Linked DNA regions of Homo sapiens. The protein of the gene in region 2 purifies or fractionates together with the protein of the main gene of each other region. This does not show direct contact. Each region holds a gene or a part of one and is shown on either strand. Other genes may lie near its edges. The genes, in order: LTF and SIRPG.

What was found.
Region 1: the proteins of SIRPG (region 2) and LTF purify together in Homo sapiens (affinity purification with mass spectrometry; 2 studies listed by BioGRID and IntAct, with this or other methods). This does not show direct contact.

What each region holds. Positions count from the first base shown.
Region 1 is NC_000003.12:46,454,832-46,462,118, forward strand, and holds part of LTF (lactotransferrin isoform 1 preproprotein), read right to left. Parts: intron 4,989-7,287; coding exon 4,825-4,988; intron 1,568-4,824; coding exon 1,459-1,567; intron 1,148-1,458; coding exon 965-1,147; intron 612-964; coding exon 464-611; intron 1-463. UniProt on the Homo sapiens protein: Transferrins are iron binding transport proteins which can bind two Fe(3+) ions in association with the binding of an anion, usually bicarbonate. Lactoferricin binds to the bacterial surface and is crucial for the bactericidal functions.
Region 2 is NC_000020.11:1,628,523-1,633,937, reverse strand, and holds the end of SIRPG (signal-regulatory protein gamma isoform 1 precursor), read left to right. Parts: intron 1-217; exon of another isoform or gene 218-430; intron 431-3,631; coding exon 3,632-3,714; 3' UTR 3,715-3,716; intron 3,717-4,301; 3' UTR 4,302-4,786; downstream 4,787-5,415. UniProt on the Homo sapiens protein: Probable immunoglobulin-like cell surface receptor. On binding with CD47, mediates cell-cell adhesion. Engagement on T-cells by CD47 on antigen-presenting cells results in enhanced antigen-specific T-cell proliferation and costimulates T-cell activation.

The DNA.
Region 1 (7,287 bases), on a different chromosome or scaffold from region 2:
CTCACTGTCCTTCAGCCACGGGGAGAGGCCCAGGTGGGCAGAAGGACATCAGCCTGGACACTGCAGCGGTCCTGCCCAACCAGGAGCCAGGACTGGACATCTCATGACAAGATGCCTTCAGTCCTGCTGTGGTTAGGCAGGCGGCAGAAATTAGTATGAGGAACCCAGGACAACAGGGCAGCCAAGTTGGATTCAGGGCTCTCTGAGGTAACAGGAGGGCCCACAGCCACAGTGACTGCCCGTGGGGCTGGTGAGAAGTTGGGGGCACAGTTGGGCCCGGAAGGCTGGAGGGGAACACACACTGGGCAGGCCTGCACTCTCTTTGGACACACAGCAGTAGGAGAACAGACCTCCTCTCGTCCCCAAGAGCAGGCTGGGCTCTATGTGGGGCCAGAGAAAAGGCCTCCCGGCCTGAGGCCAAGGGACACTTGGCCACTGACGAGAAGGGGACAGGGTCACTCACTTGAAGGCACCAGAGTAGCTGAAGTACGGTTCCTGGGAGGAGAAGGCACATTTGTTTTCCCCTGTCCCCGCACACAGGCGACACAGGTTGGGGAACTGTCCTTTATCTGCACCGGGAACACAGCTGGCTGAGAAGAACCTGGCCACAGCTGTTAAACACAGAGAAGTGGACCACAGAGTGTGAGCCAGCCCTGGTCACAGCAGGTTACACCTCCCATCCTGAGGTCTCCGTGGGCAAGGCCCCTTCCTCCACCCCTGCAGGAGAGACTCTGTCATGGGGCTGGGAGCTCGAGACATGCACCTCTGCCGAGAGCAGACTCAGCTGTGCCTCCCAAGGGCTGCTAGGGTAACGGATCCTGCCAGCAGGATGTTACAAGCTGGCCAGCCTCACCCCCACCTTGATTCATCCCACACTTTCACCTGCATGATCTGTGTGGCCTGTGCTTACAACTGGAATAGAGCCCCCTGCCTGAGGCCACTCACTATCCCCCAGCCATCTTACCTGCCTCAATGGGCTCAGGTGGACCCGTCCAATTCAAGAATGGACGAAGTGTCCCTATAGGGACATTCCATCCAGCGGTCCTGCGAAGGCCTGTGTGGCAGGACTTCAGACCTTGCAGTTCGTTCAGCTGAAAGCTGCCGCCCTTCTTCACCACAGCCACGGCATAATAGTGAGTTCGTGGCTCTGCAAAGGGGCAGACAGAATTGAAAGTTCTTAGCCTGGACAAGAGGGACAAAAACAACCCATCCTGAAAAGTCTCCGGTGGGAAGGGGGAATGCTGTGCTGCAGTTTCCTCACAGCTCACGTGTGTCCTCCTCTCGTGGGTCAGCGTCAGGAGGAACGGCCTTCATCTGGCCCAGAGCCCAGCGACTCCATTCCCTACATGTGTGATGTGACCCAGACTCCACCTCCACATGTTCCCCCAGTCTTAATCCACACAGCTCAGGGCACAGGCTGAGGCCACCGTGGCCTCTGGGTCCCCAGGCAGAACTCACGTCTTTCGGTCCCGTAGACTTCCGCCGCTACAGGTCGCAGTTTGTAGGGGGCCAGGCCTGCCTCGTATATGAAACCACCATCAAGGGTCACAGCATCGGCCCTGTTTTCCTGAAAGTAAAGAGGCCAGACTGGCTTCAGCAGAAAACTCACCCAAACCCAGCAAGTGGGACTTCAGGACCTCAAAAAGTCTCCATGGCTGGAAGGGTCGTCAAAGGGGTCCGCTTTCCATCCTGTCCCCTCACTTCCTATGAGAGATGGTGAGAGCCAAGGACCCCTGTTTTGGGACAGTGAGCACCAGCCCTCTAAGTCCTGAGACTGGCGCCTGCCCTCTTTCTCCTCTGCCTGCCTGTGTCACTCTCCCGATCACACCCCTCACAGTCATCTATATTTGAAGTCGTTTGTTCTAGATACTTTCTATTTTTGCTCTATATTCATTTCTTTTAAGTTCTGTTTTATTGGATAGAAAATATAGTTATTAAGCTATCCTAAAATTTTCATAAGAAACCATGTTCCTCCGCTTCAGCACATTGCTTCCCACATGATTACATATTTCTTTGGTTTGCAATGTGGGATAGTTTAGTGGTCCCCAACTTTTTTGCCACCAAGGACCAGTTTCAGGGAATGTAATTTTTCCACAGACAGATGGGGAATGGTTTTGGGATGAAACCGTTCCACCTCTGATCATCAGGCATTGGATTCTCATAGGGAGTGCAACCTAGATCCCTCGCATGCACAGTTCACACTAGGGTTCACACTCCTATGAGAATCTAATGCCGCCGCTGATCTGACAGGAGGTGGAGCTCAGGCAGTCATGCTCACTGGCCCTCTGCTCACCTCCTGGTCTGAGGTCTAGTTCCTAACAGGCCATCAACCGGTACCAGTCCGTGGCCAGGTGGTGGGGACCCCTGGGATACATCATATTTTGTGGACTGCTTATTCCTCTAAAACTGGATACATTTTCTAACTTCTGCAGAGCCTTTACTGATTTTGTAGACAGCATAATGTTTTCTCATAATGTGGGTGTTCTATCGTGTATTGAATAATTTCCCCCAATGTTTAGCATTTAAGTTTATTTCTAACTGTTTCCTGTGAAGACTGTATTTTCATGAATATCTTTGTCCTCAGTGTTTTTCCTTGTGACCACTTGTGTCCTTGGGTAGGCAGCTGAGGGTGGAATCCCCCAGATGAGGAGCACGTTTCCCCCTGTGACCCGGGCTGCCGTTGCCATTCTGCTTCCAGAAGACTTATAATACCAATTCAGAATGGCGCTGACCGTGAGGACCAGCTTCACTCTTGAATCACCAGCAGGGCAGGCTATCATTCTATTAGCTGTTATTACTATAGAAAATGTGAGTACTAACAAATCGCTCAGGTCTGATTAGTAAGGGGAACATCTCACAAGTATTTTTTATTAATTATGAATTCCCTCTTACTGGTAACTCTGTTCATATCATTTTTCTTCTATGATTCTACATTTTTTCCAATTTGGGTTATTCTTTTATTTATTTATTTTTTCGAGCGGAGTCACCCAGGCTGGAGTGCAGTGGTACCATCTCAGCTCACTGCAACCTCCACCTCCCGGGTTAAAGCGATTCTCTTGCCTCAGCCTCCTGAGTAGCTGGGACTACAGGCGTGTGCCACCATGCCTGGCTAATTTTTTTTTTTTTGTATGTTTAGTAGAGATGGGGTTTCACCATCTTAGCCAGGATGGTCTTGATCTCCTGACCTCGTGATCCACCTGCCTTGACCTCCCAAAGTGCTGGGATTACAGATGTGAGCCACCACGCCCGGCCTTGAGTTATTCTTTTATAGAGTGTAAATAGTAATCATGTGTCAGAGCTGGCGCATATTCATTCATTCCAGTCCTTTCTAATTTTTTTATTTAAATATTTTCTATGGGCTATGAATTACATTTTCTGTATTTTAGAATATCTGTTTGTTTCGTGATTTAGATCATCATTTAAGAGATTTCTATTTCCTCTACAGTTCTGCTAGTTAACCTGCCCCCTAGTTTTTCAATAATACAAGTTTTATTTTTAACCATTTAATCTATCTCAACTTTATTTGAATGAATGGTATGTAGTACTGATTTCAAACAGGGATCTTATTTTCCGAGATCAGACGAGATCAGACGCGTTCAGCGTGGTATGGCCTTGGACAGGATCTTATTTTAAAAGGCAGATTTTGTGGCTTCTTTCACATATATTCAGATTGAGTAGGTTAGAATAGAGCCTAGGAATCTGCATTTTAAACAAGCAAGAGATGCTGGTGCTGGTTTTTTGTTTTTGTTTTTTGTTTTTTGAGATGGAGTCTCGCTCTTGTCGCCCAGGCTGGAGTGCAATAGCATGATCTTGGCTCACTGCAACCTCCCCCTCCCGGGTTCAAGTGATTCTCCTGCCTCAGCCTTGTAAGTAGCTGGGAATACAGGCATGTGCCACCACACCCAGCTAATTTTTGTATTTTTAGTAGAGGCAGGGTTTCACCATGTTGGCCATCCTGGTTTTGAACTACTGACCTCAGGTGATCCTCCCACCTCGGCCTCCAAAGTGCTGAAATTACGGGCGTGAGCCACCGCGCCCAGCCACTGGTACTGTTTGTATGCAGGTAATAGTTGTAAAATAATAGCCTAAAACATTGATTAAACTAGATTTTTCCCTAAGTGCTATTCTAATAACTCCATTGTATTTATAAGATAATCCTATGAAGTTGCCTCGGGAACTTTTATGCAAATTATTCACTCTGCTGGAGTTGAGTACACATGATTATGGCACATGGCAGGTACACAGAATATATTTGTTGAATGAATGAGTAAAAATCATTTCAGTAGATCTTACATCTCAAAAAATAAAAGGAATCAGAAATCATATACAAGTCATGATACCCTTTTCTCTCTCTCTGAAAGTGTCTTGGACAAAAGTCTTTCTAACACCCAGCACCCTGGCAGGCCCTGCCCCAGCCATGTGATGTGGCAACGGTGACCAGGACAAGCTTCTTTCTCACAGGGTTTAGAGGTCATGACTCTTTTGGAGGATTTCCCTCTCTGAGTAACTTTGCTTTTTGCTGATCCTATGTATTCATCAAATACAACTGATTACATTTCATTTTGGAACAGTTGTTATTAATGAATAACAGTTGTTATTATAGTTTATGTGGAGGCTCCAGGTTCCTCACACATGGTCTCTTGACTTAAGCTCCTTCCTTTCTGCTCTGAAAATAGCACAGTTCCCTGTGAGAGAGGACGGCTCCCCACTTCGTTGCCCAACAGGTGAAGCAGAGGAAGTAAGGAGAGCTCGTGTTCTATCTTTTTCCATTTCTCTCTCCCTTCCATTCAGCTTGGTCCCAACCAACACCCGGCATTGACTCACCGCAATGGCCTGGATACACTGGATGGGGGAGTCTCTCTTTATGCAGCTGACAGGAGGGCCACGCACTTTTCTCATATTCCTTTGCCATTGGAAGCATTTTGTGGCCTCGGGTTGGGATACGGCGCACCACTGAACACTCCTCCTACGGCCAGCCAGACACAGTCCTGGGAGAGAGGGGCCAAGGAGTAAGGATTCAACCACTGACTGAGGGCGTGACCACCGCACCCTCTGATGGAGTTTTCCAGACTCCTCCCTCTCTCTCGGCTGCCCTCCTTCCCTCTCCATTTCATGGCTATGTCCAGCCATTCTCCACAAGTGGAGGCATCTTGCTGGACTAATAGGATCTCTGCATTGGCTAGAGGTCTGTGGTTCTCAATAAATTAAAGGAGAAAGTCCCTCTAGATTATTTTCATTCCTATGACTTTGACATGTTTCCTACCACTTAAAAAATGATGGTGATCCCCCAGATCAGTTATGGAATTCTTCTACCAGCTTTGCCCACTTTGAACCTGGAAGGTAGGCAGGAAAGGAGTCATTGCTCCTGTTTTACTGATGTGGAAATTGGCTCCTAAGGAGGCTGAGTGACTCGCCACTCAGCAGTGCAGAGCCCAGCTGAGAATCCACGTCTCTCTAGATTGTTTTGTGCATAAATCTCTTCCCAGGGAATGCCAAGAGAACAGGGGAAAATATACCTGAGTCGGTTGGTAGCTGAGGTAAATGGTAAGTCAGTGTCAATGGGGACAAATCAGTTGGTTGGTGTGCCTGAGCTACCACCATTCACTCTGCACAGAAAGACTGGTGCTCCTGTTGAGCCTGCTTTTTTTGCTCAAATACTGGTTCTTCTTTTGAGCCTGCTTTTGTTGCTCAAATCCATGTAATTAGGGAGGAAGATGCATTGAATTTACTCACCTGGTTGCCTGATAAAAGGCATCCACAAAAAACCTGCAATGAACATCATACTAAAATGGTGAAAGACTGACTGCTTTCCACCTAAGATCAGGAATGATGAGAGAGTGTCCACACTCAACTCTTCTATTCAACAGTACTAGAGATTCTAGTCACAGCAATAAGGCAAGAAAAGAAATGAGACACCCATATTGGAAAGAAAGAAGTAAAACTGACTTTACTTTCAGATAACATGATCTTCTATGTAGAAAATACTGAAGAATCTACAAAGTACTATTAGAATTAATAAACAAGTACAGCCAGGCCACAGGATACAAGATCAATATACAAAAATTGATCATATTTTTGCATACAGCACAGAACAATCTAAAAATGAAATTAAGAACATAATGCTAGATAGTATAACATCAAAAAGGATTTAGTACATGACGGGTAAATGATAAGAACAGACATTTTACCAAAGAAGATATATGAATGGACAATAAGCACATGAAAAGTGCTCAATATCATTAGTCAAAAATGCAAATTGAAAATGCAACGAAATATCATTTCACAGCCACTGAACAGGTTATAATAGCTAAAACAGACAATGACACATATCGATGAGGATGTGGAGAAGTGGAAACCCTCATACATTGCTGAGAATGTAAAATGACCAGCCACTTTGTAAAACAGGTTGGCAGCTTCTCAAAATGTGAAGCACAGAGTTCCAATAGGACCCAACAATTGCACTTCTAGGCATATAGCCAGAAGAAATATTATAAGAACCTATCATACATAAATGCTTGTGCATGAATATTCATAGCAGTGTTATTTAGAATAGTAGAAAACTGGAAACAACCTAAATGTCCAATAACTGGTGAATGTACATCCATTCAATGGAATATTACTCAGCAGTGAAAAGAACTACTGGCATGCCCCACAACATGAACGAGCCTCAGTTATGCTCAGTGAAGGAAGCCAGACACAAGAGACCACATGCTGTATGATTCCATTTGAATGAAATGTCCAGAAAAGGCAAATTTATGGAGACAAGAAAATAGATTAGTGGTTGTCTGATGCTGGGGTAGAAATGAGGATTAACTATAAACAGGCATGAGGGACCTTTACTGGGGGGGATAAAAGTGTTCTAAAACAGATTTATGGTGATAGTTGCACACTCGGTAAGGTTACTGAAACTCATTGAATTGTACGCAAATAGGTGATTTTTTATGATATGGAAAATGTACCTCAGTAAAGCTGTTACCAAAAACTAAAACAAAAAACAAACAAACAAAAAAACAAAATAAACACACAGTTGTAAAAGCCCTCTGCCCTTTGGATGTGCTATGGGGTAGAATGTTCAGCCTCTGCTGTCTCCTGTTTCTGAGCCATCCCCTTATGGCGAGAGCCACCCATGGCCCTTGGGTGGGCAAGAGGCCTGTAGCTCCCTGGCTGAGTCTGCAGAGGTTTGGGGACACCTAGCTGCCATACTCCCCCTTCATCCACCCTCATCCCGGGGAAATCCCAGGGAATATAATCTTGCCTTGGAAGCCTTTATAGAACTATCCCACACTG
Region 2 (5,415 bases):
TCTGGGTCCCTGAGGACAAGGTCAGTATCAGCCTAAAATGCAAATTTGTGCTAGTTAGAGAAACAGTCCTCTTCTGCTGGGCATTGTCCCATGGACCTGAAGTTGGCCTGTGTTCCACTCCGTATGACCAAAATATGTCTTACTTCCCTCTTGTGTAATACCAGGAGGAGTCTCAACTCCAGGAGACTTTTCAAAGGCCCAGGTTCCTCCCACATACCTTATGGTGGTTAGTCTTATCTGCTGGGTCAGTGCTAGGTCACGGATTTTTCCATGTCCCTGTCTGCTGGAAGAGTAAATATAGGAAATGGAGGGCAAAAAATATCTTCTATAATCAGAGATGTATGGAAGGCGTGTGATCATGTCCACAGCTAACTCAGTCATGCATGTACACGCAGTTCCAAATGGAATCCATAGTTGGGTGATCTTATGACTAAAGACAGCATAACAAAACCAGTATCATTATTACAGTTAATACAATTTCAAATTTTTAATCACTAAATTTCATAAAATTATTAAAACAATTCCCTTATATCATCTAAAATGGAGTATACATTCAAATTTTCCTCAAATTTCTTTTATGACTATCTTTCTGTGCACTAAATTTGGTTTTAATTCATATTTAAATGCTTTGCAGTATTTTTCTTTGAAACACTTGGGCCTCAAGAATTTTTGGGGGTGTTTTAAAAGTATAAATTCAATTTCCTCAGTAGTTTAGGGTTACTCATATTATTCATTTCATATTGGGTGAGTTCCGGTAACTCGTGCCTTTTGAAGAATTTTGTGTCCATTTTATCTAAGTTGTCATATTTTTGTGTGTAGAGTTGTTCATAATATCTCCTTATTATCTTTTTGGTGTCTGAAGGGTTATGGCGATATCCCCTGTTTCAACCTCATATCTAAAATATGCCATTTCTGTTTTCTTCTTCATCAGCCTTGCTATAGTTTTTTTCCATTTTATTGGTCTTTTCAAAGGACCACTTTGTTTCCGTGAGTTTTTAAATTGTTTTTGTGTTTCCAGTTTATTCATTTTTTGCACTCTTCTTTTTATTAATTCCTGTCTCCTGCTTGCTTTGAGTTTATTTTGCTCTACTTTTTCTAGTTTCTTGAAGTGGTGATTTAATTGACTTGAGGCTTTTGCTCTTTTCTATGTCATTCCTTTGCCTCCGTTTATGGCTGGGGCTGGTGTTGGGGGATGGGTCCCAGGTGCCTGGCTGCAGGGCTGTCCCTCAGTCCTGAGGCCCCTAGTCAGTCTCCCTTCTTCCTCTCCCACCTTGGAATTTCTCCTATTCCTGATCCTTGTGATGTTTCTAGGGTTCATAGTTTTACTTCTCAGGGAGGTAAAACTGCACCATCAAGACTGGATTGCATTTGCTTTTCAGTTATTCATCCACCCACTGGCTTGGACCAGGACCAGGGCTGGCATTTTTGGGTGCTTTCGGTTTGCCAGATGTAGCATCTTTGCTCAGGTACTAAGGCTGGAAATGCATTTTAAGTTGTCTAGGCTGGCAGGTAAAATGCAAGATGCCTTGTGGTTACATAAGTGCTGCACCAGTGGCGTGGGAGCCGGGTAAGAGACTGTGCACTAGGGTTAGGTGAGTGTTCTGTTTTGACTCACGGTCATTTTGCAGTTTGGCTTTCTCTCTTCAAGTAATACTGAGAGCCAGGGTTGTGCAGAACTTACTTTGTTTTCATTTTTTATTTGATTTGGGGAGGATATTTTATACAGATAAGTAGCTATGCTGCTGCAATTGTACCCAGCAACTCTTAAGTCAACCGAAGATCTTTGAGTGCTTTGACCCAAATGTCCACTCCCACATCTCAGGGTCCCACAACTTCCCCATCAGGGCCCTACCCCAGCATAGCAACCGTTGAAGCTGAGATTCATCCTCCTCTGTGATTCTGCTACTCTTTTAATGATGTCCAGGGCCCAACCCTCTATTCTTTCTGCCCTCTAGCCACAAGAGATAAGAAAGTGCAGTGCTGCCAAGAAGTCCTCTTGCTTTCACGCTGAACCTTAACTCATAATCAATCACTCGTAGCTTCTCAGCATATTTCCCCAAAAAAAATATGCCCAGTGATAGCCATGGAACAAGTTAGTCCTTATAACTACCATTTCCCAATTTGTTTCAAAAGCCTGATGCCAAGGAATTTCCTGCCTGTGGTTACGCCATCCCAGCTTACTGCCAGTGAAAGTTTTATCAATTGCATCCCAGCCATGGTGCCCAGCCCCACTCACTGCCAGCCCTGAGGTCCTCATTGCGAGCTGATGAGTATTCAGGCTTCAAATTTATATTTTAGAGTAAGCTTTACAGACAACTTACCAAGGTCAGTTTCTCTGTAAGGCAGACTAGAGATGGATACAGGAATGCAGGAAGCATCCTGAAGAGCTGTAGGGTCAGCATGCCTCAGGAAATGGGGAGGCAGGACTGTAGGAGGAGCGAGGTGCTGAGCTACAGTGCAGGTAGAACAAAGACCCAGCTGCTCCTGCGGAGGATCCCAAGGGCTGAGAGCGTCATGTAGTGTTTTTTAATTGAGGAGAGAAGCGTGGCCTTCCTATTTTCAATTCAGCCAATCTTTCTTGTGGGCTGTCCCCTAGAAGGAGGAGTGAACTTGGAATTGGGCAGTGCAGCTTTCCTCAAGGGAGAAGAAGTCCCAGAGAGCCACCCAGCTGAGAACTGCCGGCCTCCAACACCCCAGCAGCCACAGATGCTGAGTTCTCCATTTCTTCCTTAAGGACCCACCAGCACCATTTTATTTATTTAAAATATACTGTAATATCTTTAATGGCCCAAACTGCTCGCGTTAAAAATGTTGATTTTAAAAGCCTGAACTGCTCATGTTAAAAATGCAGCGTCCAAACATGTGCTTCCCCGTAACTGAGTGTGCCCAACTAACAGAAAGATTTCAGATGACACCTGCACTGGGGTGGAGGTGGCCTAGGTGACATCTGAGGCCCTCCCAAGCATGAGACCCATTTCCGTGACTCACCAGGATGTTTTCTAGCCGGAAGGTTTCATTATGTCCAGTGTTCCATGGCTCCTCCAAGTTCTGAGAACACGGAGTCCTCCCCTTACTTCTGGGGCTAAGCAGGGAACCTGCAACTCTCATTGTGAAGCCATCCTCAAGCCACCTGCCTACCCTTTTATAGTCATTAAAATGTCCCTAGGAATTTGGACTTGTTTTGTTCCAAAGGACATGGTCTCAGGGATCAACCTAAGGAACACTAGTGATGAGCTTCTTTAGGTTTGAATGCAAGTAACCTTGTGACCCTCCCTAAAATCCATGGGCCTCAGTTTCCCTAGCAGAATGGAATGACAATCCCTGCTCCCATAGGCTTGTGAGGGTCAAGTGAGGAACCCCGTTGCCACATGTATGAATACCTGAGTACACACCCCCTCCACCTCTTCCCTCCAGGAGAATAAGCTGGCAACCTGGGACAGGATGAGTGAGAATGGGGAGCCTCTTTCTGTGGCTTCTGCCTTGTGCTGGAGTGAAGATAGCCTGGGCAGGATGCAGGTTCAAAGGTGGGGCATAGATGGGCCCAGGCAGCCTCAGATGGGGTAAGTGGAGGCCCCTACAATGGCCTCCCAAGTGGTCTCTCTCATAGCCCCTCGTCTTCCCTGATTTCCAGGCCCGGCATCATCCCTTACTGCGCTGCTCCTCATAGCTGTCCTCCTGGGCCCCATCTACGTCCCCTGGAAGCAGAAGACCTGACTGTAAGTACAAGGAAGGGAGGACAGACCAAGGGCTGTCTCAGAAGGGCAAGGCCAACAGGAAGGCCCAGCCCACATGCCATGCAGCACCAGGGTCCGTGGAGTTAAGCTCCCTCCGCACCCTCGGAAGTCTTGGGGAACCCTTTAAAAGGCTCCCAACCCACAGAAATTATGTGGGTGGTGTACAATGTGGGATGCTTGAAATGTGTTCAAAGATGTCCACAGTGCCCTAGGAGTTTCATGGAGGCAGTGATGAGTGGGTGGTCCCTTGCAGGCTATCTGTAGATTATTTGAATGCTGGGACTCCATGGGGTCAGAGAAATCCACATTGTAAACTAATGTTGAGAAACCCAAATGGGAAGCCCTGAAGGCTGTTTGTGCTCTGACCCTCTGTGTGTCTGAGTGGAAGGAATATTGGAAAGGGCATCAGGACTTGGCAGGATGGCTGAGCAGGCAGAGTTCTATCAGGACTGCCTGTCCACCAGTGACAGGTATCCCAGGAGACCAGCCCCGAGAACATAACAGACTCTCAGGAAACATGTCTTGAAAGATGAGCAGATGACTAAGTGTGGATGTGTTTTCCTACAGCTCCTTCCTTCCTCCCCTGCCACGTGGGACCCTCATCTCTGCTGCCTCCTTCCTTTCCTGAGAGGCTCAGCTTGAGAGAATGAGCCAGTGAGAAGCTTCTCTAGACTTGGCTCCAAACATCTCCCCTCCCAAGACATCTGCCTGCCCACAGGCTCCTGTTGCTCCTTCACACAGACCTGGATGCCCCAGAGCAAGGTCTTCATTCATGGTCCTGAGCAGGTGCCATGGGATTGGGCTCTGGGCACTGACTTAACGGCACCTCCCTAGAAGGCGAGAAACATGCCAAATCTAAACACACCAGGACTCCCATCCATCGCCTTGAGACTGACCGTAAACCACAGACGCTCTCCAGGTTCTCAAGAGTTATCCTGCCTTCCAGATTCCTGCCTATCCCAACTCCCCAGCCTTGTTGAGGTTCTCTATTGCCTCTTGAATACAAATGCACTCCCAAAGTGGTTTTAAGAAAATAAAAAGATTATCCTTCCTCTTTGTCTAAGGGTCCTACTCCTCACACTCAGAAACAAAGAAGCTCTCCCTGCTCTCTCTGTGATGGGAACACTAGTTCTAGCATCCTGCAGGCTTCCCCGCCCTGCTGCTCATGGCGGAAATGCTGCCGCAGTCCAAAAGCCTCCTTGACTCCCGAATCCTCCCTGATGTCTCTTTACACCCCATATTCAATTCTGCCTTCAAAATACTTATGTCCACTCGTGAGATGGTAAGTGTTTAAAAATGGACTCTCTTAAAGGAAAAAAAAAGCTGATTTGTTGTACTTGACAATTTCTGTGGTATAATCACCCCCAACATGGCCAGTTTCAAGCTACCAGAAGTTTAACAACTGGATTGCAAAATTCCTGAAACTTAACGGTTGGCTTTCAGGGGCCAGTCCAAGCCTGCTGCAGGAGAGCACTGAGTTACATCCCTAACCTGCACACTTCTCACCTCCATCACCCCTCCCTGTCCCGGCCAGCATCATCTCTTCCGGGAACACTTCTGTAGCCTCTGTTGGCTTTCATTTTTCAGCTACAGGGATTTTTGGAAAAGTCAAATTGTATCACTCCTCTGCTTCTTCCCCAACACAGCTGCATGGCTCCCTTCATCCCTCCTTCAAGCCTCT